7 linked regions of the Homo sapiens genome follow. The protein of the gene in region 6 interacts with the protein of the main gene of each other region in a pairwise test. Each region holds a gene or a part of one and is shown on either strand. Other genes may lie near its edges. The genes, in order: ARL2BP, FAM171B, CRABP1, IDUA, GNG7, MPP3 and TMEM37.

Region 1 (4,172 bases), on a different chromosome or scaffold from region 6:
TACAGGTGTGAGCCACCGCACCCAGCCCTGTTTTCTTTTTAAATTGTGGTGAGATATACAATTTTTTTTTATCATTTTAATGTTTAAGCACACAGCTCAGTGGCTTTAAGTATGTTTACATTGTTGTGCAATGATCACCACCATCCTTCAGTCCATTTTAACCATATCCACACAGGGTGGCTTGGGAACTCCCTGACATTACTTTTCTGAAAAGGAATGAATTGGTTCTCTCTTATTTTGATATAACTTCCACAGCAGTTGTGGAAACAGTGTAGTGATTAAAATTATGGGGTCTGAAAGAGGCTAGCCCGTCTGGGTTCGAATCGCATCTCAGCTACTTACTAATTGTGTGACCTTGGGTAAGTTACTTAATTTCTCTAACCCCCATATAAACACATTTATCTGGAAAATAAGAATGGTTTATGGTAGTTATCATATAGGATTGGAAGTGGAATTTAGATGAGAATTCATGTAAATAGATTAGTTCATAGTGAACACTTAATAAATGATAGGGAATAGGGAATTTTTTTTTTTTAATTGAGACAGGGTTCTCCCTATGGTGCCTAGGCTGGTCTCGAACTCCTAGACTCAAGCAATCCACCTGCGCTGGCCTCCCAAAGTGTTGGGGTTATAGGTGTGAGCCACCGTACCCATCCCGGAATAAGGAATTTTAACAACTGAATAGATTATTTCTAAAAATAAAAGGAAAGTTTCAGAAAGGACCCAGACTTTGGGATAAATACCGTAGGCTCACAGAAGGCTCATTTTCCCATAGCATATAGGGTATAATAGGCAAGAGAACTGAATGGATTCTTCAGTATTCCCCAGAAATCCCCAAGTCCACATGGGAAACGAGCTTAATGATGAAACATCTATATTCAGGAGTTAAGGGCATGAACCTTTATACCTGAAGGTATAAAAACTTGGTCAGTAATTTTCATTCTAAATGGATTAAGCCATACAGCCAATAACACCAAATAACAGTGTTCTTTTCTCAATTCTCATAAAACTTAAAGTCAACAGAATTTTCTCAAATGTAAGTTTTCCCCTCCTACATACTTGTCTTAAACCTCTGGGGACTGTTACTGCTTCTCTGTTACTTAGCAGGTTTCATGGATGCCCAAATACATCCACAAGTAGGAACTCAAAACCTAGGAAAATACAGAACCAGCTGAAGCTTAATACCTTGTTTTCTTTATGGCCATGTGTGCTTATGGTTATGGTTTTATGTGTTTATTTTCATTTTTATTTTTTCCAGACGGAGTCTCGCTCTGTCGCCCAGGCTGGAGTGAAGTGGCACGATCTCGGATCACTGCAAGCTCCACCTCCCAGGTTCACGCCATTTTCCTGCCTCAGCCTCCTGAGTAGCTGGGACTACAGGCGCCCGCTACCACGCCCGGCTAATTTTTTTTGTATTTTTAGTAGAGACAGGGTTTCACCGTGTTAGCCAGGATGGTCTTGATCTCCTGACCTCGTGATCCGCCCACCTCGGCCTCCCAAAGTGCTGGGATTACAGGCGTTAGCCACCGCACCTGGCCTGGTTTTATGTGTTTTATGGCATGAAAATGTTAAAACTCAAAACTATCTAAAATTGAAATTGCTCTTACCCTACATAAGAAATAGAGTAGATCATTATTTCCTATAGTTTTGCGAAGAACGCCACACTGCTGGTGCCCTATTAGCCTGAGTCAGTCCCTTCCAGCCTCTGAATCTATGCTTATTAGATGTTTTCAGGAGTACTGGGCTGTTTGTTTCTAAGACAAACTGCAGTAAGCCTTTACTTAAGTATTACATTGTGCTACATTAAAAATTGCAGGCAGCTTGATGTTTTCTCTTTTTAAAATTAACTCTCCAAATTGATTTCAATGTCCTTAAAGAAACAAGCAAGTCCTTAAAAACAGTATCTTAAAAGCTTACCCATGATAATGTCCTCTAAATATCCAACCACAGCATCAAATTCTGCATCAGAGGCGGAGGAGCTGAAAAACATGCCTGGATTAGGTGCTATTTCAAATAATGCATTAAAAAAATGTTTTTAGTATGGACGTTTTCAAACATGCACAAGAGAAAAAAGAGTAGCAAAACGAACTTCCCATCACCCATCTTCAACGATTAAGAATGACTGACTGATCTAGTAAGTCCAAACAGAAGAAAACACACTCGGCACGTTTGTGACATGAACGTTCAATGTCATGACTCCACTTTAATAAAAACTTGTTCTCCAGGCTCTTAGCTATCACCCCATACCTGTCTGCTTGTGAGCATGAACCCGGCACGGGCGAAACACCTGCCGGGGGGGGTCATTTGGTCAGGAGTCCGGGAGGCGGGGGCCAGGGAGGGGTGGAGGGGCCTCGGGCGCTCAACCCCTCCAGGCTTTGCTGACAGCTGAGGGTTGGCGGCTGGGGATTGTGATGGAGGCGCTGATCAACGGTGACACCCGCCTCGCACTCCTGTCCTGCGGGGCCTGAAACCTGCAGCCTTAGTACTCTACAAAAGGAAGGCCTGGAGCTGGGACGGCGCCTTGGCGGCCCCCACCCTGCCCGGCCCGGCCCGGCCCGGCCCCTAAGGACACCTGTTTTATAGGGTCAGGCCCCGGGGCGAACGCCCGCTGCCTCCGGCCCCAAGTCGCCTGCGCCCTGGAGGAGCTACTCACAAAGACAGCGCAAAGCTCTCTCCTTCTAAGGCGTCCATCGCAGTCGCCCCGAGTAGGCTCCAACCCCGCCCGCGGCCCAACTCGCATGCAGGGCGCGGCCGCCCGGCGGGGTTAAGGCCTCTCAGCCAAGGCCGCGGCCAGCTCACTGCCAGGTCGGGTCAGCGCCTGCGCGCCAGGTCCGGCCTTGGATACCCTCTGCCGCCACGCGTCGGTCCGGCCTCTACGCCCGCCTGGCCCTCTGCGCGCGCCGCCGACGCCGCAGGTCCGGGCCTCGGTGACTGCCGGAGGGGCGCGGCGCCCCGCCTCCTGTCACCATGGCCACCGCAACCCCTTCCACCGCCTCACGGCCGGCCGGCATCCAATCACAGGCGAGCGTTACCGATGCCGGGGCGGGGCAAGACAGGGAGAGGAAGTCCCGGAAGGGAGTGCGGAGGGATGCGGCGCTTCGGCGAGCACCCGTTGTGTGGGAACTCCGTCTCAAGTCGCCCCCATTGTACGGATGAAGGAATCGAAGCCACGAGCCAGAATTTCCTCACTCGCAACTCGAGAATAAATTGCGCCTCCCTGAGTGTGGAGGATTAAATAAGTAGTTTAAGGCGTGTTTAAAGAGCGCTTGTAAGTTGCCAAGTCGCTGGAGAGCCAGTCCCTTATCCCTTGAACCAGGTGATGCTGACGTCTGATTTCAAGACAGTTCCTACCCCTCGTGGAAGGAAAGCCCCATCGCAAGAAGTCGATGTCCTGTAATTTACGTTATAATCTTCGCATCATAAAGATTACTCGGCAGTAATTGGTTTCTTGACTAATTATACAAGATGAGAATTGAAGAACTATTTTGAGCCACGCAATCAGGAATCAGATACCTTTCAGGAAAAGGCCTCTTCAAAACTGCCAAACTTTGAAAAAGGATTCGTTTGAGCTGATTTCTCTTGATTGGACAACTAAGCATTGTGTCTCTTTAGTTGCATGATACCTTATGGCCAAAGTGTGGTATATGACTAGAGGAACTAGAGGGGTTTAAGGTATGAACTGAGGGTCAGGTGGCCAGTCAGAATGGGTTAGCAGACATTTTTTATTTTTTTGAGACGGAGTCTTGCTCTGTCGCCCAGGCTGGAGGGCAGTGGCACGATCTCGGCTGGCTACAACTTCCGCCTCCCAGGTTCAAGCGATTCTCGTGCCTCAGCCTCCCGAGTAGCTAGGATTACAAGTACGTGCCACTATGCCCGGCTATTTTTGAATTTTTAGTAGAGACAGGGTTTCACCATGTTGGCCAGGCTGGTCTCGAACTCCTGACCTCAGATGATCCACCTACCTTGGCCTCCAAAAGGGCTAGGATTACAGGTGTGAGCCACCACAACCGGCCTAGCAGACATCTTTGAATGGACTTAAAATAGATATCCGTGGGATCTGAAACAAAGATGGTTACAAAGACACAGTCGGGTGTGACAGCTGTGACCAAGGTGACATAAATTATTACTAATTTATTTATTTATTGAGATGGAGTTTCGCTCTTACTGCCCGG
Region 2 (3,500 bases), on a different chromosome or scaffold from region 6:
ATCAATTAAATTATTAGAATAGAAAAGACATCAGTTTTTAAAGAGCTACATGACAATAAATGATAAATGAAACAATGTAAGACTTCTCAGTTTATAGTTTTTGTGTGTGTGAAGCTAGAAAAATAATACCTGGAAAACAGTTAAGAAAAGTAACATAATTATATGCTGTTTGGTTGTTGAGGATACAATCTAAAGCCTTCTGATCACTCACAGGTACTACCTATGACTTGCTCTTTTAAAATACGTGGCTTAATTATTTTGAAGACCACATTTCTTACAACTGAACACATGCACACTAAACAAAATGTCTAGCTGAGCTTCTGTAAGGTTTTGTACATTCCTAAATTTTCTAGTTTCTCCTTTTGCCATAAATACATAAACACACAGGCTTAATTTCCACTGTACAAACCTAATGAAACATGTTATGGAAGTTCAGCAGTAAGGATATGTATTTTTTACAGAAAGATTTAACATCATTATGAAACATTCATACTTTCCTGCCTGGCCTTACAAATGGGTCACCTTTTAGGAAAATGAGACAGTAAAAGGAAGTGATCTGAGAATTCAAGAGGACTCACAGTGTTCTCACGGAAACCTGCCAAGGCATGGCCAGTACTTTCCAGACAAATGAGTGCTTACCACTGCTTGGTACAGTGGCAAAGGATTGGTACGGGACATGGTCACACAGATCCATTTCATGTATTCCAGCAGAAACTATGATTGTTAATGGGGTTTGAAGATGCCAGTGAGGGGCAGAGATGCATCAAAACAAACACTGAAGAGGGACTGTGAAGAAGCTAATTTCATTAAGGCCCCAATAGCATTAAACAGAGCCTCTCTGTATACTTGTAATTCTTATTTACTTTCCATTCTTTCACACACAGCTCCACATCCACCATTCTGCCATACACAGCAAAAATCACTAGCTCAAAATTCTGGCAAGGCCAGTCATGGCAGCTCCCAGCACTTTGGGAGGCTGAGATGGGCGGATCGCTTGAGGTCAGGAGTTTGAGACCAGCCTGGCCAACATGGTGAAACCCCATCTCTACGAAAAATAAGAAATTAGCCAGGCGTGGTGGTACACGCCTGTGGTCTCAGCTACTTGGGAGGCTGAGGTGGAAGGATCACTTGAGTCCAGGAGGTAGAAGTTGCAGTGAGCCGAGATTGCACCACTGCACTCCAACCTGGGTGACAGAGCCAGACACTGTCTCAAAAAAAAAAAAAAAAAATGCTGGTCAGGCACGGTGGCTCATGCCTGTAATCCTAGCACTTTGGGAGGCTGAGGCGAGTGGATCACCAGAGGTCAGGAGTTCAAGACCACCCTGACCAATATGGAGAAACCCCATCTCTACTAAAAATACAAAACTAGCTGGGTGTGGTGGCACATGCCTTTAATCCCAGCTACTTGGGAGGCTGAGGCAAGAAAATCACTTGAACCCGGGAGGCAGAGGTTGCAGTGAGCTGAGATTGTGCCATTGTACTCCAGCCTGGGCAACAAGAGCGAAACTCTGTCTCAAAGATAAAAAAAATCTGGCAAATATCTTGGTATTTCAAATGTCTTGGTATTTCATAAGTAAGAGATTCTACAGCCTCACTCAGTAAATTGCTTCAAGATTCATCAAGCCCTAGTTTATTTTTTTCCCAAATAATAGTAAATTTTCTGGTTGAATATTTTAGGAATAGATAAGGCAGCATCTAAAAATGAAAAGAACTTTCACAGAGAGTTCTTTTTACCATGACGCTCTTACTGGACTCCACCTTGAGGGCTTTCTCACTTTATCAGTCATTCCTGTTATACTTTAGACCTAAATATGAATTTACCAATACAAAACAAACAAGCAAATTGTTGTCATTTATAGAGGTTTCCTAAAATATGCAATAAAAGAGTCACAGAATTCTGAGGTTTCTAAGGCGTGCGGGGAGTTAGGATGAAACAATCATCTTCATGGTTGGTAAAGCAGAATTGGAGGACACAGTTTGAATCAGTACCCAAAACATGATTTCTGCACTCTTCTCCTTGGGATACACAAGTGAGGCAAATCACGTCTACAGAGCAGATACTTAACTACCAAGTCTTAGGCATCTCCCAAAAAGCGACAAATTTAATGCTGGAGGCAGGAAGGAGGCAATCTGTAAATTAGCCCCAAAGGCCTGAGCAATATGTGTCCTGCCCTTTCCTCAATTTCTCCCACCATGGAAGCCCCAGTAAGAAATGTGATTTGGAAAGAAGAACAGAAGTTCTCTACAGTGTGCCTGTTTGAGGGGCTAAAATAGTAAAGGAAAAAATGACTCCTGCTATACAAAAAAGCCCACACCATTCATTTGACAGTAAAATATCAGTTCAGATCAACTTATAGTCAGTGCTAATCATACTGATCAATTTAGATTTTTCTCAAGTTATAATTCACACTGATTCTTAGTGAAGAAGTACAGTTATACGACAATAACTTTAAGTGTTTACTTAGTAAGAAGTATGGTACTTACCAGCTAATTTTCCAGTAATTAAAACAGTGTCTTCAAATAGCCATATATTTGCTTGGCTTTGCGGGAACAGTGAAAGTGTAACTGATGAATATACTGTGAAATATAGCACAATTAGAATATTTTACTTAATGTGAGGGGAAAAAAACTAGGACAAATATAGTTCTGTAACAGCAAGTCTCAAAAAGTGTGTTGTGGGGGGGAACAAATGCTTGATGGGAAGAGCAATTCAAAACAAAGGAAGAATGAATGTAAAATATGATGGAGGAAAAAAGGTCACAATAAAGTGAGAAGAAAACATTGGTTATCACTATTTATTTTACTAATCTTTTCTATTTGATGGTAGTAGTCTATACCAAGGTGATGAATGATGTTCTGTAACCCCAGATATAAATGATCAAGTTAAATGCTTGAATAACTCCCTGATATATTTTCTCTAATTTTTACTTATTAAGATTTAAAAATTTTTTTTCTTGGCTCCATGATTCAAGCTTCTCTAGATATAAACTATATCCACTTTTCACTTTTACCTTCCCACATAAGAGCACAATGCTCTTCTGCAAACAGTGTGGTTTGCCAAAAGGATCCTGAGTTGGCAGAGAAGGAAACAATTTAATGCACAAAATGATTCAAAGGCAACCTTTAGTAGTAATGCAGGATGGAGATGAACCTGCCTACAAGCATAGGCAGCTGAACTACCTGTTGGGATGAGTTAAATGCAGATTACCTGAAAGATATTATTTCAAGATTGGAGCAAGAAGCTGGGACAAAAGACCATTTTATAAGCAAGATCAAATCAAACTTATCAATCCTTCAAAAGAAAAATCAGTTTTGAGGAGTTCTCAATCCTCCAAAAGAAAAATCAGTTTTGAGGAGCTCCCAAAGCACGAGTTCTCGTTTGATATCTTTCCTCTATGCTGTGTATTTAAAATTAATAGAAATAGCATGGCATCCTCAAATCTCTTAAGAGAAAACACAGTTGCATGGAAATACTTTTATTATTTTGAGATATTTCAAAG
Region 3 (4,072 bases), on a different chromosome or scaffold from region 6:
CAATTTGGATTTTATTTATTTTTATTCATTTTTTTTTTGAGATGGAGTCTCGCTCTGTTGCCCAGGCTGGAGTGCAGTGGCACAATCTTGGCTCCTTACAACCTCCACCTCCCAGGTTCAAGCAATTCTCCTGTCTCAGCCTCCTGAGTAGCTGGGATGACAGGTGCCTGCCACCACGCCCAGCTAATTTTTTTGGTATATTTAGTACAGATGGGGTTTCACCAGGCTGGTCTCGAACTCCTGACCTCAGGTGAACATAATTTGGATTTTAAAAGCAAGAACCTTCACATCAGAACCACAAGATTTGACAACAGTTAAGACACCAAGTTTGTAACCACATCTGTCATCAGCCTATCAGGAGCACGATTCCCTGCATGGATTTTGGGATAGGAACGTCCTTTCTGTTCACTCCTCATCAGATTTAGTGCACCCCTGCACTGATAAACCTCGGTGTCTTTGGCTCTGAGGGTTAAAATGCTGCCACTTTCCCGGTTACATCCCTTTAGAAAAAATTTAAAAAGCAAATCAATCTGAAGGCTCTTCATGCTTTTGGAGGTGGGAGGCAAAAGGAGGGATTTCCTGAAGTTTTTCCCCAGTGTCTGCACAAAGCTAAGTGTGGTACAGCTGGGCTGGGGGGTGGGCCAGAGCTGAATGTGCACATAATCAGTTTTTAACTAACACATGGGACACATTCATTAGGCAAGGTGTGGGGGGATGGGGGGTGCATAAAGCCCCACTCTCCCGGCTGTTGTGTGAACCTTTAATTTTTTTTTTTTAAATCAGAATTACCCTTCCTGGCAGTAGCCAACATTGGATGTCCCCAGACTGAGCCCTGCCTATTGCCAAGCCTCCTCTCTTAGACTCCCAGCCCTTCACTCTATGCTGTCCTGCTCTTTGTTTCTGCAGTGCAGTTTAGGCTTCAGATCCCACCCCCTCCAAGCGTGGAGATCATTTCCAGGCTATGACAATTCTGGAGCCAAAGATTGCCTCCTAGATCAGCCTGCTTCTGGGGGGCTTTGTTTCTTTGTCCTTCCAAGCCCGGTGCTCAGAGAGTCCCATTCCGAGATCAGACCAGGCACTGCTCAGGAAAGGTGAAAGAAACAATTTCCCACTCTCTGGAATGTTACGACTTTTTTCTTTAAAAAAAAAAAATTGGAGAAGGGGAGGGAGACATTCTGTCACTTTTTAAATAAGTGGTAGCACCGGTGATTATTTTTCCATCTGGTTAACCAAATGCAATTTTTGCCCATGCAAAAAACGAATGTACAACCCCTTGCTTCAATCCACCGGTTCATCCCTGGGCCGATGCATGGAGAAATAAAAAAAAACTCTTGCCCTTGAGGACTAAGAGAGGGCAACTAGTCCATTTTCCCAGCCAGAACCTGCCTTGCTTTTGGAAAGACTCCGCCGTTCCTTTAAGGAACCAGGCCGAAGGCGGGAAGGGAGAGGTGACGGGGCCATCGGGACTGCTAAAACTGTATCCAGAGCGTACCCAGGCGGCCCAGGGACCCGGGCGGGCGCGGGGGATACGGCGGGAAAGGAATGCAAGAGCTGCGGCTTCACCTGCGACAGAGAACCTGGCGGCTCCTGCAACCTCCTCCTCCTCCTGCGCCGCCTGCGCTTGGCGCTGCAAACCGCTGCAAAAGCCACTGCTGGGAACGCGGCGCAACCCAGAGCCCGCTCTTTAAGCGCGGCTGTTAGCACCCCGGGAGGCAGCGTAGGGATGGGGTTGAGATGGAATGAAGGTAATACTTTGTCTTGAGCCAGGGGCAACTAGGATGCACAAACCCCCTCTGCAAACAGCCAGTGTACACACCCTGCAAGGAAGGCGCGCCACAGGCTGCAAAGGGAGACACAGGTTCCTCCAGCAGCAGTGGGCCATGGGCACCGAGCGGGGACACGGGGACGCTGTAGTGGCTCTGGGGCCTCACCCTGCACTTGCGTCCGTCCACGGTCTCCTCCTCAAAGCCTTCTCCGACCTTGAAGTTGATCTCAGTGGTGCGCACCGTGGTGGATGTCTTGATGTAGAACTGATCCCCGTCCTGGCGGATCTCCACGTGCGGCTTGGACGCAGCCGCTACGGCCACTTTCCTCAGCATGGCGTTCACACCTGCGCAGGGTGCACCACAGGCTTGGGTCACGGGGCCTCGCCGCCAGTCTCGGGACCGGTCGGGCACTGGTCATACCCTAACTTTAGAAAGGGGCCTTAAAATTGATCCACTCGTTTCCCTGCCCTCGCCCTTGTTTTCGAGATGAGAGACTGAGGCACAGAGAGGGTAAGTGACTTTCCTCGAGTTGCACAGTGAATTCGTGGCAGAGCCTGGTCCCAAATTTGAGTCTCCAAATTTAAGTCCCTGATCCTCCTTGCTCTCCAGTAATCTCTCCTCGCTATGATCTAGCACGAGATAAAGTCCGCACCATCGAGGAGGGCGCCAAACATTCAGCAAACGTTCGCTGAACGCGTGGGTTCCGGGATCTCTACCAGCTTCTCCGAGACCCGGTGCGCCTGGGAGACAAGGCGATCTATTGCCCCGGGGACTCCCTCCTGCCTGGGCTCCCCAACTTCCACCCCCTCCAGGACCGGGGCACTTCCGGGACCAGGGCACCTCCGGGCCGCATCTCCCCGTCGGGGCGCGCCCTCTGCACCAGCTTACCCAGTGCCTTGAGCAGCTCGTCGAAATTCTCGCTGCTGCGCATCTTCCAGGTGCCGGCGAAGTTGGGCATGGTGGCGGTGGCGGCGGCGGCAGGTACGGACAGCGGCGGCGCAGCGGGCACACTCTGAGCTCGCAAGGCGGAGACTGGCGCTTTGCGCCCAGCGCTGCGCGCCTTGAGTCACTAGGAGAGCGCCCCCAACCCCGCCGGGCTTCTGGCCCCGCCCCGCCGGCCCTGCCCCCGCTCCCCCGCAGCCCCTACTCGGTATGCGCTCAACTCCCAGCCCAGTTGTGCCTCAGCCTCCAGAGGTGCGGGCACCCGCTCTCCAACTGGGGAGCCTCCACCTCCCTCAGGACACCCACATCCCGCTTTAAAATGGGTGGTGGGAGAGGGTTAGCTGAAACAAGATGGGCTTGGAGGGGATAACTGTTGAAGCTGGGCGGTGTGGACTTGGGTTATGATTCTACTTTTCTCTCTACTTTTGAATATGTTTGAAAATATCCATAACATAAACTTAAAGTGGATAGCGAGCGGGGCCATCAGGGGATGGGACCCACTCTTTTTTCACCTCCGGTCGTACCTACTGGGTGTGCCCAGATGGTGTCCCTTCCCTCCCAGTCCGGGATCCTATTCTGAAACCCTCTCCCCGCATCCCCACGCCCCCCACAGGACCCATGGGGAGTGAGTGGCAGGAAACCGCAACCCCCATCAACACCAGCTTGGGCACTGAGGCGCGAATCCACGAGCTGCGGGTCCTCCGCGTTCCGAGTGCAGGAGGGGGCCAGACCTTTGTCAGGGCTCAGGACAAACTGTGGGTCGAGAGGCATGGACTGAATCAGCTCCAGAATCTGGGCTAGGTGCGGCCTGTTTTGCAAAAGCGTGAGGCTTTGCACTCTTCGGGCAGGCTGTGAGGGCCAAGGGGAGGAAGTCTTCTCCCTTTGCTCCCAAATAACCTAAACATCACGACCTAAAGTCCCCTCGGTGTTTCCACTAAGGGAGTACAAACACTTCACTATTACCCTTGTAGCTCTTCTCTGTACATTTTCCTTCCAGCTTTTTCCCACTATTTTACCATCTGCACACCTCAGCCAAACTGTACAATTCAGGATTCTAGAACGTGCCATGCATTTTATTATCTCTAAGTTTTTGCCCATGCCATGGCTTCTTCCTTGAATGCCCCTTTCCTCATCGGGTTAATCAAATCTTGCCCATTCACGAAAGCCCATCTTTATGCTCTCTCTTTTGTGAAATTCAGTTTCCTAATAAACTGTGATTATTTTTCTCTGAATTGACAGGATTCTTGTCCGGTCCTGCTCTTGTTCAAGTCTTCGCTCTGCTATAAACTGAACTCCTGGAGGGCAGTGATCGTTTATCCACTTGTCCTCCCTTCCTAAGGCTTAGCCAGGTGGGGCTCGATAAC
Region 4 (4,015 bases), on a different chromosome or scaffold from region 6:
AGTCACGGCTACTCTGTGCGTGCCAACCAGGAGCTGCTGGCTGTGGGCTGCTGCAACGTGCTACCCGCCTTCCTCCACTGCTTCGCCACCAGCGCCGCCCTGGCCAAGAGCCTGGTGAAGACAGCCACTGGCTGCCGGACACAGCTGTCCAGCGTGGTCAGCGCCACCGTGGTGCTGCTGGTGCTGCTGGCGCTGGCACCGCTGTTCCACGACCTACAGCGAAGCGTGCTGGCCTGCGTCATCGTGGTCAGCCTGCGGGGGGCCCTGCGCAAGGTGTGGGACCTCCCGCGGCTGTGGCGGATGAGCCCGGCTGACGCGCTGGTCTGGGCAGGCACCGCGGCCACCTGTATGCTGGTCAGCACAGAGGCCGGGCTGCTGGCTGGCGTCATCCTCTCGCTGCTCAGCCTGGCCGGCCGCACCCAACGCCCACGCACCGCCCTGCTGGCCCGCATCGGGGACACGGCCTTCTACGAGGATGCCACAGAGTTCGAGGGCCTCGTCCCTGAGCCCGGCGTGCGGGTGTTCCGCTTTGGGGGGCCGCTGTACTATGCCAACAAGGACTTCTTCCTGCAGTCACTCTACAGCCTCACGGGGCTGGACGCAGGGTGCATGGCTGCCAGGAGGAAGGAGGGGGGCTCAGAGACGGGGGTCGGTGAGGGAGGCCCTGCCCAGGGCGAGGACCTGGGCCCGGTTAGCACCAGGGCTGCGCTGGTGCCCGCAGCGGCCGGCTTCCACACAGTGGTCATCGACTGCGCCCCGCTGCTGTTCCTAGACGCAGCCGGTGTGAGCACGCTGCAGGACCTGCGCCGAGACTACGGGGCCCTGGGCATCAGCCTGCTGCTAGCCTGCTGCAGCCCGCCTGTGAGAGACATTCTGAGCAGAGGAGGCTTCCTCGGGGAGGGCCCCGGGGACACGGCTGAGGAGGAGCAGCTGTTCCTCAGTGTGCACGATGCCGTGCAGACAGCACGAGCCCGCCACAGGGAGCTGGAGGCCACCGATGCCCATCTGTAGCAGGGCCAGGCCTGCCCAGCAGCCTCTGCTCCCTCCTGGGGACCCACAGCAGACGTCTGCAAGCCACTGCTGAGACCCTTCCCAGGGAGGAGCCACCCAAGAGCTGCACTCTTGTGCCACAGCTGCCCTGGGGAAACCGGGGAACCCCAACTGGGAAAGGAGGCCCTCTGATCACACGCAGGACCCAAACACTCAGAAATCAAGAACCTCTGCCTCCGAGACAGGCTGGCCCACAGTGCTGGCTGGGCCCCAATGCACCGTCCCTCAGCTCAGGAGGGATGGGCCTGACCTGACGCTCAGGGTTGACATCTTATTTGAACAAGGGTCCCCCGCCATCATGCAGCCTCCAAGGTGCCAAGAGGACTCCCTATGCCCAGGCCTGCCCGGTGCCCACCCTGCTGGTAGGAGCCAGCGGCTCTGGCCAAGTGCACGAGGGTCTCTGTGTTTCCAGAAGGCCCCACACACCCAAGTGCCCCTCACACCTCGTGCCTCCCCCTCACAGGGTGGCCACCTGCACCAGCGTCAGGGCCCAGGGTGCTGTGACCGATGAGACCTCAGCTCAGCCCTCAGGTGCAGTGGCCCTACCCAGCCTGGCCAGCAGACACACACAGGGATGCTCACGGGTGCACCAGGAGCCAGGTGCGGCGCAGCCAACCCTGAGCCTGCAGGGAGACCTGCAGGAAGCCCACCGTGCCCCATGCAGGGGCTCCCTCCAGCACACAGCCCTCACCCCAGCACAGCCAGCAAGGACACGCTCTCCCCAACAGGGTGCTTCGGCGGGAGGTGGGGGAACAAGGGGTCTTCCGAGCAGCCCCCAGCCCTCCCCTCCCATCTGTGCCTCTGTAAGGGGCTCTGGGACGCCCAGACCCTGCCCGCCGCCCACCTGGTGGTGACAAGCTCCAGCAGCCAGTGGGTCCGGACCTGCTTGATGCCGCGGTGAGGGACGGCGCCCACATAGGCGAGGTTGAGCTGCTGGTCCCAGCTGAGGACGTACTGGTCAGCCTGGCTGTGTGGCAGCGGGGGGCTGGGGACAACAAAGGGGCGGCTCAGTCCCGAGCCTCAGCATGGCTGGCAGCGCGGCTGACACACACGTTCAAGCCCAGGACTGCCCGGGCGCAGGATCCAGGCGCTGCCCGTGCGTTCAGTGACTAATAAAATGACCCTTAGGGCCAGGAATGTGGGGAGGTCCCATCTTCATGGGGAACGGCAGCAGCAGTAAGACGAGGGGCCAACGCCAGCCCTGGCCCTGGCCCTGCCAGGAAGGCGGGTACCTCAGCTCTAGGTGGAAGGAATGGGACAGGCAGGCCAGGTCCCGCTGCAGGGCCGTCCACTCCCAGGGGAGACTCCTGGTTTACCTCAAAGAGCAGGATCCCGGGCATCGGCCTGGGCTGCAGGGGGCGGCCCAGGCTCACGCCCCGGCGCCCACTCAGGTGGAGGACCCACCCACAAACACGGCGGGGGGCGGGCCCGGGAGAGCCAGGGCCCCAGAGGAGGGAGCTCCGGTCTCTGAAGCTCTCACAGTGCGCAGTCAGGGGGCGCCCGAGCTCTCCCCGTGCGGCCAGGGGGTCCCGGAGGCCGCGGAGCGCTCACCAGAAGCCTGTGCTCCTCCAGAAGCGCCGCAGGGGCCACAGCGCGCGGGCCGCGTCCACATGCACCAGGTGCGGGGCCTCGGCCGGGGCCACCGGGGGCGCGGCCAGGAGCGAGGCCAGGAGCGCCAGCAGCGCGGCGCGGGGGCGCAGGGGACGCATGGCCACGCGTGCTCGGGGACTGCGGGGCTTCGGGCTGCACTGCCGGTTCCGCCTCCGGGTCGGAGTCTGGGCGCGCACCCCATGTGACCGCCGCCGCGGGGCGGGGCCTTGGTGAGGGGGCGATGGCCGGGTGGGAGGGGTTGGGTGGCCTCGGGGAGCCTCGGGGAGCCGGGAGCACGGCAGGGCTTGGAGCCCCGCTTCCTTGCGGGCCTCAGGGGCTGCTCTGAGGACCGATGACTCGGAAAGCGCTCAGAAGAACGCTTCGCCCGTTGGTGCTATGTGAGTTGAGCCATTACTGTCTTGTTTTTCTCTGTTTTTGTGTGTTTTTGAGACAGAGTCTTGCTTTGTCGCCCAGGCTGAGGTGCAGTGGCGCGATCTCAGCTCACTGCAACCTCCATCTCCGGGGCTTCAGCGATTTTCTCACCCCAGCCTCCTGAGTAAAGCGTGCGCTTTAGCAGGAAGGAGAATTACCCCAGAAGAGCACACTGGGCCCTCCTTACACTTGGCTTCAGATCCATGGATTCAACCAAGCAGACTGAAAATATTGTTTTAAAGCCAAAGCAATACGAAATAATACATATTTTAAAACAATACAGTATAACAGCTATTTACAGAGCATTTACATTGTTTTAGGGACTATAAGTAATCTTGATTTAAACTACACAGTAGGATGTGCGTAGGTAATGTGCAAATACTGTGCCATTTTATATCAAGTACTTGAGCACCTGCAAATTTTGGTATCTGGGAGGGTCCTGGAACCAATACCCCGAGGATACCATGGGACAACTGTAGTACATGTGTAGTCCATGTATGCATGTGTGAATCCAAGCAAACATTGTATAAAAATAATAATGGAAAGAACAGGCTTGGTGCGGTGGCTCACACCTGCAATCCCAGCACTTTGGAATTGCAGGCCAACACGGGAGGATCACTTGAGGCCTGGAGTTTGAAATCGGCCTGGGAGATGTACCAAGACCCCATCTGTACAAAAAAAAAATTTAGCCAGATGCGATGGTATATGCCTGTGAGGCCCAGCTACCCACGAAATTGAGGTGGGAGATTGCTTGAGCTTAGGAGTTCAAGGCTGAGACGGGCCATGATCACACCACTACATTCCAGCCTGGTTGACAAAATGAGACCCCATCTCTAAAAAAAGAAAAGAAAAAAAGAACAGTCTACTAACAAAACGAAAATACTGGACAATAATCCTCTCTAAGTTGGGAGAAGGATAATTAGAGTTACAGTGTTCTGGGTCT
Region 5 (3,500 bases), on a different chromosome or scaffold from region 6:
ACAGATGAGGTCTCACTATGTTGCTCAGGCTGGTCTCGAACTCCTAGGCTCAGGCGACCCTCCCGCCTAGACCTCTGAAAGTGCTGGGGTTACAGGCATGAGCCGCCTCGCCTGGCCAGTACCTCTGCATCCCAGATCCTCTGTCCTCCTTTGGACCCCAAGGATACCTGGGACCTGGGCCCTTCAAACGGCCAGGAGCCTGTGGGACAGCTTTGGGGTCTTGCCCAGCTGGGCAGCCGGGGGACGCTCATGCCCACAGAGTGAGCCCGCCGGCTGCGGCCTGTGATGACTCGGACCTGGCCTGCTTTCTAGACTTCTATTTGGGAAGCGGCCCTCCTGGACGACAGAAATAGCCTCCAGACCCCGAAAATAGCTGGCATTGTGGCTCCAGCACGTGGCACCTTGGCACCACCCCCCATGCCCACTGCGCTGGGCTGGTGAGCCCCAAGATCGTCGCCGTTGAGGTTCTGTGGTTCTGGTCGCCGCGTTGGAGCTGGGGATGTAAAACCTCAGGCGGGACTGGGAGTGGGGACGGGTCAAATCCTGGCTCCCCCCGAGGCCCGACATTCAAAGGGGCGGTGGGGGCCCCTCCTCAACATCAAACAGGGCAGGATGAGTCACCGCCCTCCGCCCGGGCTGGGGGCTGGCACCCACTCGTAAAAGGAAAACCACTTCAACCAGGGCTTTCTCTCTTTTCAGCCCGAAGGAATGCTTTGAATGCTCAGGTCTGTCCTCAGCAGTCAGATTGCTGGAACATTCAGACACCTCGTGGGAGGCAGACCCCTCCCCTACTGGTTGGATCCCGGCCAGCAGCAGCGTGATGGGGTCTGGGAGGGCTCAGAGCTGCGCTGGAGGGAGACTCACCGGCCGATCAGAACCACCTGTGCCACCTGGCCAGCAGGGACGACTCTGTCCGCCTCCCCGCTGGGAGCAAAGCAAGGGCCGGTCACCCCTTCCTAATAAATTCCCGTGGCCAATAATGACAAGCTGGTGACAGGTGCTGGAGAGCTGAGTTCTGAGTGGATACGTGGGGTGATGGCTGATTTTATGGGTGCACTAGGGCGGGCCATGGTGCCCCAGGGTTTGGTTAAATGTTTTTTTGTTTTTGTTTTTTTTCTGAGATGGAGTCTCACCCTGTCGCTTGGGGTTGGAGGGCAGTGGCGCAATCTCAGCTCACTGCAACCTCTGCCTCTCGGGTTCAAGCTATTCTCCTGACTCAGTCTCCCAAGTAGCTGGGACTATAGGAGCCTGCCACCACGCCTGGCTAATTTTTTTGTAATTTTAGTAGAGATGGGGTTTCACCATATTGGCCAGGCTGGTCTCGAACTCCTGACCTTGTGATCCGCCCACCTCAGCCTCCCAAAGTGCTGCGATTCCAGGCGTGAGTCACCGTGCCTGGCCAGTTAAATGTTTTTTTAGATGTTGCTGTGAAGGTTGTTTTTTTCTTGTTTCTTTTTTTTTTTTTTTTTTTTTTGAGATAGAGTCTCGCTCTGTTCCCCAGGCTGGAGTGCAATGGTGCGATCTCGGCTCACTGCAACCTCCACCTCCCAGGTTCAAGTGATTCTCCTGCCTCAGCCTCCCAAATAGCTGGGATTACAGGCATGCACCACCATACCCGGGTAATCTTTTTTTTGTATTTTTAGGAGAGACGGGGTTTCACCATGTTGGCCAGGCTGGTCTCGAACCCCTGACCTCAGGTGATCTGCCCACCTCAGCTTCCCAAAGTGCTGGAATTATAAGTGTGAGTCACCGCGCTCAGCCTGTTTTTTATTTTGTAGAGATGGGGTCTTGCTATGTTGTTGCCCAGGCTGGAATTGAACGCCTGACCTCAAGTGATCCTCCTGCCTCGGCCTCCCAATGTGCTGGGATTACAGCTGTGAGCCACTGTGCCTCACATGCAAAATTTTTTTTTTTTTTTTGATGTGATTCACATTTAAATCCGTAGACTTCAAGCACAGCAGGTGACCGTCTGTAATGCAGATGGGCCTCATCTAATCAGTTGAAGGGCTTAAGAGAAAAAGCCTGGGGTCCTTCCAGGAGGAGGGAACTCTGCCTCCAGGTGGCCTTGGGGTTCCAGCTGCAGCACCAACTCTTCCCTGGGTCTCCAGCCTGCTGGCCTACACTGCAGATTTCAGAGCTTGCCTTAAAATAAATCTCGACAAGGCGCAGCCTCAAGTGTGATCCTTGTAAAAAACTTCAAACGGGCCAGGCATGGTGGCTCACGCCTGGAATCCCAGGACTTTGGGAGGCCGAGGCAGGCGGATCACCTGAAGTTAGGAGTTCAAGACCAGCCTGGGCAACATGGCGAAACGCCGTCTCTACTAAAAATACAAAAAATTAGCCAGGCATGGTGGTGCATGCCTGTAATCCCAGCTATTTGGGAGGTTGAGGCAGAAGAATTGCTTGAACCCGGGAGGCAGAGGTTGCAGTGAGCCGAGATCGCGCCACTGCACTCCAGCCTGGGTGACAGAGCAAGACTCCGTCTCAAACAAACAAAACAAACAAATCCTTCAAACAACACAGAAGTGAAAAGTAGATACGACATGCAGTCTCCTCCCGCCTGGGACTGTGTCTCTCAGTTTAATTTGCATCTGTCATTGCCAAGGAGCTGGACAGATCAATGCAGATGAGGACGACAAAGCGCTCTGTCACGATGACCGTCTCCACGGGGCCCCAGTGTGTTTACAAAGCACGTTACATTGCTGCACGAAGGCAGGAGATAGGTGTTAGATCAGCTGCCTCTTTCTGCCGAGGAAATGGAGGCTCAGAGAGGTTAAGGGAGGGCCTCAAGGTCACACAGCAAGAGACACAGTTGGGGTGCAAGCCTCTGCCCTCCTGCCGAGCCTCCTGTTCATCATTTGCGGGGCCCCCAAGGGTCTCTCCCCTCCTCTTCCTGATGCCCGCTGGGCTCACCTTGATGCGCTCAATCCCGGCTTCTATGCGTAGCTGTTCCACCAGCTTCCGGGCCTGGGCTATGTTGTTAGTGGCTGACATTGTCTGCCATCAGCTCTGGGCCCCGTTGTTCAGAGAGCTGTGGGGGAAGCAGAGGGGTGTGGGTCAAAGTTCAGGTCAGGCCTCTGGGTGGCAGCAGGGGCGCCCGGCCTTGGCTCAACCTTCCCGACTCTAGGCACGGCCACTTTGCCTCTGGGTGGGGACCAGGGGCCTCCGTGTACAAAGAGCTGGCACTCGTTTAACTCTCAGCATAGAGCCTGGCACGCGGTCAGCCGTCACAATCCTCTGTGGGAGTTTGCAGAACGAGAGAATGAAAGGGCGAAGGCAGGCTGGGCGTGGTGGCTCACGCCTGTAATCCCAGCACTTTGGGAGGCTGAGGCAGGTGGATCATGAGGTCAGGAGATCGAGACCATCCTGGCTAACACGGTGAAACCTCATCGTTACTAAAAAAAAAAAAAAAAATACAAAAATTAGCCAGGCATGGTGGTGGGTGCCTATAGTCCCAGCTACTCTGGAGGCTGAGGCAGGAGAATGACGTGAACCCGGGA
Region 6 (3,500 bases):
GAACTTTAAAAACATTATATTAAGTGAAAAAAGCCAGATACAAAAGGTCTTACATTGCATGAATCCATTTATATGAAATGTTTAGAATAGACAAATTTATAGTGACAGTAGATTAGCAGTTGCCTGTGGCTAGGAAGGGGCTGGAGGAAAACAGATAATGGGAAATTCTAATGGGCTCAAGGTTTCTTTTTGAAGTGATGAAAATACTCTTAAATTGACTGTGGTAGTTGCAACAACTCTGTGAATACATCATTGAATTGTATGCTTTAAATGTGTGAATTGTACAGTATGTAAATTTTATCTCAGTAAAGCTGTTAACTCCCCCTCCAAAAAACACACAGAAAACAAAACAAAATTTAGTCATGAGCCCACTATTCAGGGAGAATTGCCTTTAGCGTTTTAGTGTATTTTGTGTGTAACACAAAATTAGAATCCTGATTTTTTATTTTGATTTATTTTTTCTTGTATTTAGCTATGTCATCAAATATTCCTCCAACACATGGCTTTTATTTATTTATTTAATTAATTTATTTTTTTGAGACAGAGTCTTGCTCTGTCGCCCAGGCTGAAGTACAGTGGTGCAATCTCAGCTCACTGAAAACTCTGCCTCCCAGGTTCAAGTGATTTTCCTGCCTCAGCCTCCCGAGTAGCTGGGATTACAGATGCCTGCCACCACGCCCAGCTAATTTTTGTATTTTTAGTAGAGACGGGGTTTCACCATGTTGGCCAGGCTGATCTCGAACTCCTGACCTCTGATGATCCACCCACCTCAGCCTCCCAAAGTGCTGGGATTACAGGCGTGAGCCACCACTCCCGGCCCCAACATATGGCTTTTAACTGGCTATAATACTTCAATACATCCTGTAAGTGTCACATAATGGAGTATATTGAACTGAGTCCTGACAGTGAACATTATTTAGGTTGTCTCTGATTTTTTTGTTATATGATGGGCATACTGTATGTTTCTTTTTTTTGTTTTTGAGATGGAGTTTTGCTCTTGCTGCCCAGGCTATAGTGCGATGGCGCAATCTCGGCTCATTGCAACCTCTGCCTCCAAGTTCAAGCAATTCTCCTGCCTCAGCCTCCCAAATAGCTGGGATTACAGGCGCGTGCCACCACACCCAGCTAATTTTTTGTATTTAGTAGAGATGGGGTTTCACCATGTTGGTCAGGTTGGTCTTGAACTCCTGACCTCAGGTGATCCACCCGCCTTGGCCCTCCAAAGTGTTGGGATTACAGGTGTGAGCCACTGCACCCAGCCAATATTGTATGTTTCTAAATGATTCTAGACTTAAGTTGATATTCCCCTATTCCCCTTAGAGTTTCTTGTGTCTTTTTTTTTTTAGATGGAGTCTTGCTCTGTCACCCAGGCTAGAGTGCAGTGGCGTGATTTTGGCTCACTGCAGGCTCTGCCTCCTGGGTTCAAGTGTTTCTCCTGTCTCAGCCTCCCGAGTAGCTGGGATTACAGGCATGCACCACCACACCTGGCTAATTTTTGTATTTTTAGTATGAGACGGGGTTTCACCATGTTGGCCTGGCTGGTCTCGAATTCCTGACGTCAGGTGATCTGCCTGCCTCAGCCTCCCAAAGTGCTGGGATTATAGGCGTGAGCCACCATGCCAGCCTCCCCCTTAGAGTTTCTAAAGGAGAAAATTTTTCTTTTTTCTACATTTTTTTTTTTTTGAGACAGAGTCTCACTGTGTCATGCAGGCTGGAATGCAGTGGCATGGTCATGGCTCACTGCAGCCTTGACCTATTAGGCTCAAGTGATCCTCCCACTCCCACCTCAGTCTCCCGAGTAGCTAGGACTATAGGTTTGTGCCACCACACCTGGCTAATTTTTGTAATTTTTTTGTAGAGATGGGGTTTCACCAAGTTGCCCAGGCTGGTCTTGAATTCCTGGGCTCAAGCAATCTGCCCGCCTCAGCCTCCCAAAGTGCTGAGACACAGGTGTGAGCCACCGTACCTGGCCAAGGAGAGAATTTCTAATGTTCCTTGTATGTATGCCATTCTAAATAATTTACTGAGACCAGATACGGTGGCTCACACCTGTAATCCCAACACTTTGGGAAGCTGAGGCAGGAGGATCATTTGAGGCCAGGAGTTTGAGACCGGCCTGGCCAACACAGAGACACCCTGTCTCTATAAAAAAATTTTTTTTAATTGGCTGGGCATTGATGGTACATGCCTGTAGTCTCAGCTACCTAGGAAGCTGAGGAAGGAAGACTGCTTGAGCCCAGGAGTTCAAGGCTGCAGTGAGCCATGATTGTACCACTGCACTCCAGTCTGGGCAATACAGCAAGATCCTGTCCCCAAAAAAATAAAAGGCTGGGCACAGTGGCTTACACCTGTAATCCCAGCACTTTGGGAGGCCAAGGTGGGAGAATCACTTGAGCCCAGGAGTTCAAGACCAGCCTGGACAACATAGTGAGTCCCTGTCTTTAAAAAAATAATAATAAAATAAAAAGTGTATCAACGTGGACAGTTAAAACTGAGAATTAGTATGAACTAGGATTGCATCAAAATCTTGACTCAGCGGGAGCTTCCTGACCAAGGGGAAGGATCCGAGAAGGCCTCCTTCAGATGAAACCAGCTATATAGGACAGCAAGTAAAGTCTATTCTGGGACTGAGTTGCTTCTGACTGCCCCCACCACCCACAACAACTTCCAACTCATTCTGCTAACTGACCCTGTTAAGAACCAAAAAAGATGAGTCACCAAGCCCACACCTCCTGGAAGAACTCTGTCAAATATTTAGGTTTTGGGTGAGGGTCTCGCCATCCTGACATAGACTGGGCTGAACAAAGAATCTATGACAGTGAAACAGAAGTTCATTTAGGACACATCAGACGATCTCATCCACTAGTTTTAGAAATCCCTTCATTCACTGATGATTCAAACTGGTTTGATAGCAGTGATAATGACCTTGTTAGTTGGGGTTTCAATTTAAAATACTTGGATTTGGCCTAGGAGTATAGTTTGATGAGTACAGTCTGTCACACTCAGATGAGGTCCCTGACAGGTGTCACATTTTGCGGGAGGGCGCTTATGTGAGGGAGTGGAGGGGCGTGAGCCCAGGCAAAGCCACCTGCCTGGTTTGGGAGGCACTTCCAGCTGTTCACCTTGAGCCTTCTGGCCATGTAATCATCTTCTCTTAAGTTTTTCAATAGGCAAAATGGAAAGACAATCACATGTAGAAGGTGTGTCCCGCATCCCTCTTCAGCTGCAAGCACCCTTATGCAGCTAGAAGCGTTCCTGTAACAGCCTCCCTTAGGCCTTCAGAAAAGAAACAATCAACTTTAAACTTACAAATGGGGCTGCTGTGTCCTCACAAGCTGGGGACATAGGTGGCGTTTTTCTTTTTTCCTGAATTGCAGGCTTTACAAATATAATATAGGGTTTAAATTCTGAGGTCCTCAGTTGTTTCAGTGCCTGAGAAAGAAAGTTCAGGAATATTATATACTTTTGAAGTGTTTTGTTGTGAAATAGACTTTTGAAAG
Region 7 (4,100 bases), on a different chromosome or scaffold from region 6:
CTAAGAGTATGGGCTGTGGTTCTCAAACTGTGTCCCCATGCTCCTGGTGGGGCTTCCAGTGCTGAAGCCGGGTGGGCAGGGAAGCTGAGCAGGCTGGCTCTGCATCCCCTTCCTCACTTCAACTGAGCCCTGTACCTGCTTGGGACATTGGGGGTCCAGGAGTCTGTATTGCATTTTATTACAAAAAAAAAAAAAATCTACCGGTAAGAAAGAAACCAAAGGAAACTTTGAAAACCTGTGTCTACTCCACAAACCATTAGAGGTGTTTGTCCTTGGGCAGTTTCTTAACTTCCTGAGCCCTTGTTTCCTCATCTAGAAAATGAAGTTAATGACACTTGCAGGAAAGTCGTAGCCATGAAGGCACCTGGCAAGGTTACAAGGTCCCTAGAGAATGATAAATGGTCCTAAAAAGGAGGAGCACCACAGGCAGAGAACAAATCACAGGACCCAGAAACCTTTTAACCCGAGACAGCATGCTGGCTGGAAAACAGGCACGTCCTGTCCCTTCTCCAGCCCTACCTGTCCTAGGCAGACTGGACTTTAATCTCCAGGCCCTTAGATGTCACGTCAGGATCAGAAAGTGGAGACAGCTGACCTCATCTAGTTTCCTCCCGCTCCTGCCCCAAAGTAGGGCTTCATTTAAACTCTCTGGCCACCACTGAAACTCCCAGGAATCAAATGAGATCCTGTATATAAAGATGCATGGTACACGGGCCGCTCCCAACTCATGGTAGCTATTAATATTAATAACAATAATAACACATATAGAGTCTTCATTCCTAACCACCCGGCATCTCCACCAGCTTTCAGTGATGCAGGGCCTGAAACGGCTACTGGAGGGCAGCTGGACAAGTGTGCAGTGGAAAAGAAGGGAGCGGGGAGGTCAAGTCCTGCCCCTGACCTAGAGGACCCCTGCAGGGTACCTTTAGGCAATCACTTAAATCTCTCTGGAGCTTAACTGCTCTGCTAAAAATGTAAGCATTTTCCTTTTTCATCTGTAACCTTGCATGATTTCTAGTGACCTATAGAATAGGGTCACTTGACACTACTGGGCTACTGAGTCCAATGTCATGGTCTTCCTCCTATAACCCAGGGCCTCATGTGTTCCCCTTAACCAAAGCACCCCCAGGTAGACAAATTAAGCTCCTCCCAACTCATTCCGCACATCCCCAACATGTCTCCCATATTTGCTCCCCCTCATCACCCACTCTGCCCCTACCCAGGTGAGGCCATCACCATCGTCAACATCCTGGAAGTTCACAGCCTCCTGATGAGCCGGCCTGCCTCTGCTCCTCTCAGCTGCAGCCTGGCCCACCGCTGCCTGCATGACCCAGAACTTGCTTCCTACCTGTGTTTGCCCCCTGGCAAGTCATGGTTGTGGGGATGAAGAGTTATCATCCCGAAGCGGCCGGAGCACCCGCCCTTCACCTGGAGCCTGTGGCCTCCCCAGCTGAGCTCCCACCTTGCTACCAGGCTTCCTCCTCTTCCCCGTCTGGCAACTTTTGCACCTCTTAATTTAGCATTCGCTCCCCCATGCCCTGTTTCCAAGTCTCTCTCCCTACATGGGCTGTAAGCTCCTAGAGGGGAGGGACCGCACCTGGTCTGTCCCACCATGCTGCCTGGCCGGGATTCCAGACATCCCCCAGAACAAAGGGGAGGAATTCCCTGCGCCCCATGCCCGGCTTCGCCCAGGTGCCTAGGTCCTGGCTATAGAAGCGGTTTTGGGGGTGTCCTGTGGGTGGGGTTTCTCCCGTTAGGTAAAGGCAGGAGGAGCCAGTGGGATTTGGAGCCAGAAAGCCCTGGGTTTGAATCTTGATTCTGTTCCTTGGCCAGCCACGGAGGGCACCTTACTTCTGAGTCTCGGTTACCTCATCTATACAATGGGCAGAACGGTGTCTACTAGGTCAGTGTTGTGGCTGAGCGTTTGTACACGAAGTCAACGGGCCTCTCTAATCCTGGAGACAGTCCAGCGGATAGACTCTGCAGCGGGCGAGTTGCGCGGAAAGGAAGTTCGCCCGCTGGGCAGCGGTACCGCCACCCACTGACTTCCCTTTGGGGAGCAGCAGGCCCGAGGGAGCGGGTAGGAATGTGTAGGTTCTTAGCCAACATAAACATCGTGCACTACGCTAAGGAGAAGCCAAATCTTCGGAGACACGGGCTTCTTCCCTCGCCAGAGCCTTTCCCTGAGGTGTCCGCGCGACTCAGCAAGTCCACCCCCAGCCCAGCACCCCAAACGCAGCTTTGGGGAGGGAGACGGTCTTCCTAACCTCCACCCCCAGAAAGGTCTAACTTCCCAAGAGACGCATCCTCTGTTACATAAGCCTCACTTTGCAAGTCGATTCTGTCCCTCCACCCCAGACGCGCCTCATTTCTCACAAAGGGGGACCCTTATGGTAAACTGACCAGTAAGTCACTGGTGACACCAAAGAGAAGAAAAATCTTTCCAAATGAAGTTTGGGAGCCTCGGGTGCTTGCAAGGCCGCGAGCAGAAGCAGCCGGAGTCCGCGCCTCGGGAGCAGCTATGTGAGGCAGGCAGGCCCCCCGAGGTTGCTCCCCGCCCAGCCTCCTCCGGACCCAGGTTTGCAACAGGGGGCGGGCACGGGGGGCGCTCGCACCCCCAGCCCGACGCCGGCGCTCGCGGTGGGTACGCCCCTCCCTCCGTCCTCCCACCCCCAACCTCCCACGGCGGGGCAGCACCCCGGGTCAGCGCCCCGCCAGGCGCCGGCTACCTGCACGCCGACGGCAGTCATGCTGCGCCCGGCGGCCGCGCTGCAGCCTCGATCGCTCCAGCTGCTCCGCTGTGGCCGCCGGCGCCAGCCCGGGACTTCTCCGCAGGGGCGGGGCGGCTGCTGGAGGCGGGCGGGGCGGGAGGGGGCGTTCAAAGCTCGGCGATTAACCCCGGGCGGGCTCCGCCAACCCCGCCGCCCTCCGCGGCTCGGATTACGCTGAGTCAGCGAGGGCGGCCGGAGGAGCCCCTGGGGAGCCGCGGGGAGGACCCGGCACTTGGGGGGAGGGATCCCTCGGGTCCCAGGGGAAAGGATCGGGAAGTCACTCCGACGCTCCCGAACCTCCGAGGACAGCTTCGCCTGGGGCGCAGATTCCTCGAGGGCTGGGACGGCGACGAGGGCCTGAGGGTTCGATTCCTGTTCCAGCTTGCTGAGTCCAGCCTCTGGGAACGCGGCAGGGTCCGAAGGGAGGAGGCAGGCGCAGAGGCTCTGCTGCCCTCACTCTGCGGTGTGACCTTGGGCTGCTTGTTTAGCGTCTCGGAGCCTCGGTTAGTAAGGGAAATAATGAATGTGAAAGGTGGGGCTCTTGCCGGGCCCTCGCTGAGTGTGAACGGAGTGGAACTTTTTGGGGCAATCCTACTTGCGTCCCTAAAAGGGGATGTAAAACCCTGTTTCCTCCTGAACTCCTCAGGGACTATTAAAAATGCAAATATGCCAAACAAATGTGGTTATTTTTTCTCCACCTCGATGGGAACTGAGGTCTCTCTTTTTTTTTTTCTGGACGTTGTCTAGCGCTTGTGGCCCAGGCTGGAGTGCAATGACGCGATCACGGCTCACTGCAACCTTCGCCTCCTGGGTTCAAACCCGTTCAAGCGATTCTCCTGCCTCAGCCTCCCGAGTAGCTGGGATTACAAGCGCGCCCCATCAAGCCCTGCTAATTTTTGTATTTTTTAGCAGAGACGGGGGTTTCACCATTTTGGTCAGGCTGGTCTCGAACTCCTGACCTCAGGTGATCCACCGATCTCGGCCTTCCAAAGTGCTAGGATTACAGGCATGAGCCACCGCATCCGGCCGGATCTGAGTTCTTAAAGAGGCAGCACCTAAAAGCTTTTACCGCCAAAAAGGGTGGAGGTGGGAGGAGTGTCCAAGGGCCACAAATTCCAACAGAAAGGCTTCCCTCCCCCCATCCTCAAATGTGGTGGTAAAACAAGGCCCCTCACTAAATGGCACACATTAAATTGTCTGGTTCACTCAGGCAGGCAGCTCCTGGTGACTTTACCCAAAGACAAAGCAACTGCACTCATCTGTTTTCCCCTTTAGAGCCATGTGAGAAAGAGGGGTAGTTACAATTGTCTGTATATCTTCCACTTAGAT

What was found.
Region 1: the proteins of MPP3 (region 6) and ARL2BP interact in a two-hybrid assay, tested with the Homo sapiens proteins (one large-scale study listed by BioGRID and IntAct).
Region 2: the proteins of MPP3 (region 6) and FAM171B interact in a two-hybrid assay, tested with the Homo sapiens proteins (one large-scale study listed by BioGRID and IntAct).
Region 3: the proteins of MPP3 (region 6) and CRABP1 interact in a two-hybrid assay, tested with the Homo sapiens proteins (one large-scale study listed by IntAct).
Region 4: the proteins of MPP3 (region 6) and IDUA interact in a two-hybrid assay, tested with the Homo sapiens proteins (one large-scale study listed by IntAct).
Region 5: the proteins of MPP3 (region 6) and GNG7 interact in a two-hybrid assay, tested with the Homo sapiens proteins (one large-scale study listed by BioGRID and IntAct).
Region 7: the proteins of MPP3 (region 6) and TMEM37 interact in a two-hybrid assay, tested with the Homo sapiens proteins (one large-scale study listed by BioGRID and IntAct).

What each region holds. Positions count from the first base shown.
Region 1 is NC_000016.10:57,243,887-57,248,058, reverse strand, and holds the start of ARL2BP (ADP-ribosylation factor-like protein 2-binding protein), read right to left. Parts: upstream 2,801-4,172; 5' UTR 2,692-2,800; coding exon 2,654-2,691; intron 2,267-2,653; exon of another isoform or gene 2,248-2,266; intron 2,245-2,247; exon of another isoform or gene 1,980-2,244; coding exon 1,918-1,979; exon of another isoform or gene 1-1,917. UniProt on the Homo sapiens protein: Together with ARL2, plays a role in the nuclear translocation, retention and transcriptional activity of STAT3. May play a role as an effector of ARL2.
Region 2 is NC_000002.12:186,742,560-186,746,059, reverse strand, and holds part of FAM171B (protein FAM171B precursor), read right to left. Parts: intron 2,578-3,500; coding exon 2,485-2,577; intron 1-2,484.
Region 3 is NC_000015.10:78,339,081-78,343,152, reverse strand, and holds the start of CRABP1 (cellular retinoic acid-binding protein 1), read right to left. Parts: upstream 2,801-4,072; 5' UTR 2,725-2,800; coding exon 2,655-2,724; intron 2,111-2,654; coding exon 1,932-2,110; intron 1-1,931. UniProt on the Homo sapiens protein: Cytosolic CRABPs may regulate the access of retinoic acid to the nuclear retinoic acid receptors.
Region 4 is NC_000004.12:985,829-989,843, reverse strand, and holds the start of IDUA (alpha-L-iduronidase isoform a precursor), read right to left. Parts: upstream 2,801-4,015; 5' UTR 2,760-2,800; coding exon 2,602-2,759; exon of another isoform or gene 2,036-2,601; coding exon 1,895-2,035; exon of another isoform or gene 1,012-1,894; coding exon of another isoform or gene 1-1,011. Other genes in the region: SLC26A1 (sulfate anion transporter 1), read left to right, coding at 1-1,011.
Region 5 is NC_000019.10:2,517,695-2,521,194, forward strand, and holds part of GNG7 (guanine nucleotide-binding protein G(I)/G(S)/G(O) subunit gamma-7), read right to left. Parts: intron 3,032-3,500; 5' UTR 2,995-3,031; coding exon 2,914-2,994; intron 1-2,913. UniProt on the Homo sapiens protein: Guanine nucleotide-binding proteins (G proteins) are involved as a modulator or transducer in various transmembrane signaling systems.
Region 6 is NC_000017.11:43,805,647-43,809,146, forward strand, and holds part of MPP3 (MAGUK p55 subfamily member 3), read right to left. Parts: intron 3,433-3,500; coding exon 3,310-3,432; intron 1-3,309. UniProt on the Homo sapiens protein: Participates in cell spreading through the phosphoinositide-3-kinase (PI3K) pathway by connecting CADM1 to DLG1 and the regulatory subunit of phosphoinositide-3-kinase (PI3K). Stabilizes HTR2C at the plasma membrane and prevents its desensitization.
Region 7 is NC_000002.12:119,430,554-119,434,653, reverse strand, and holds the start of TMEM37 (voltage-dependent calcium channel gamma-like subunit), read right to left. Parts: upstream 2,801-4,100; 5' UTR 2,751-2,800; coding exon 2,730-2,750; intron 2,582-2,729; exon of another isoform or gene 2,404-2,581; intron 1-2,403. UniProt on the Homo sapiens protein: Thought to stabilize the calcium channel in an inactivated (closed) state. Modulates calcium current when coexpressed with CACNA1G.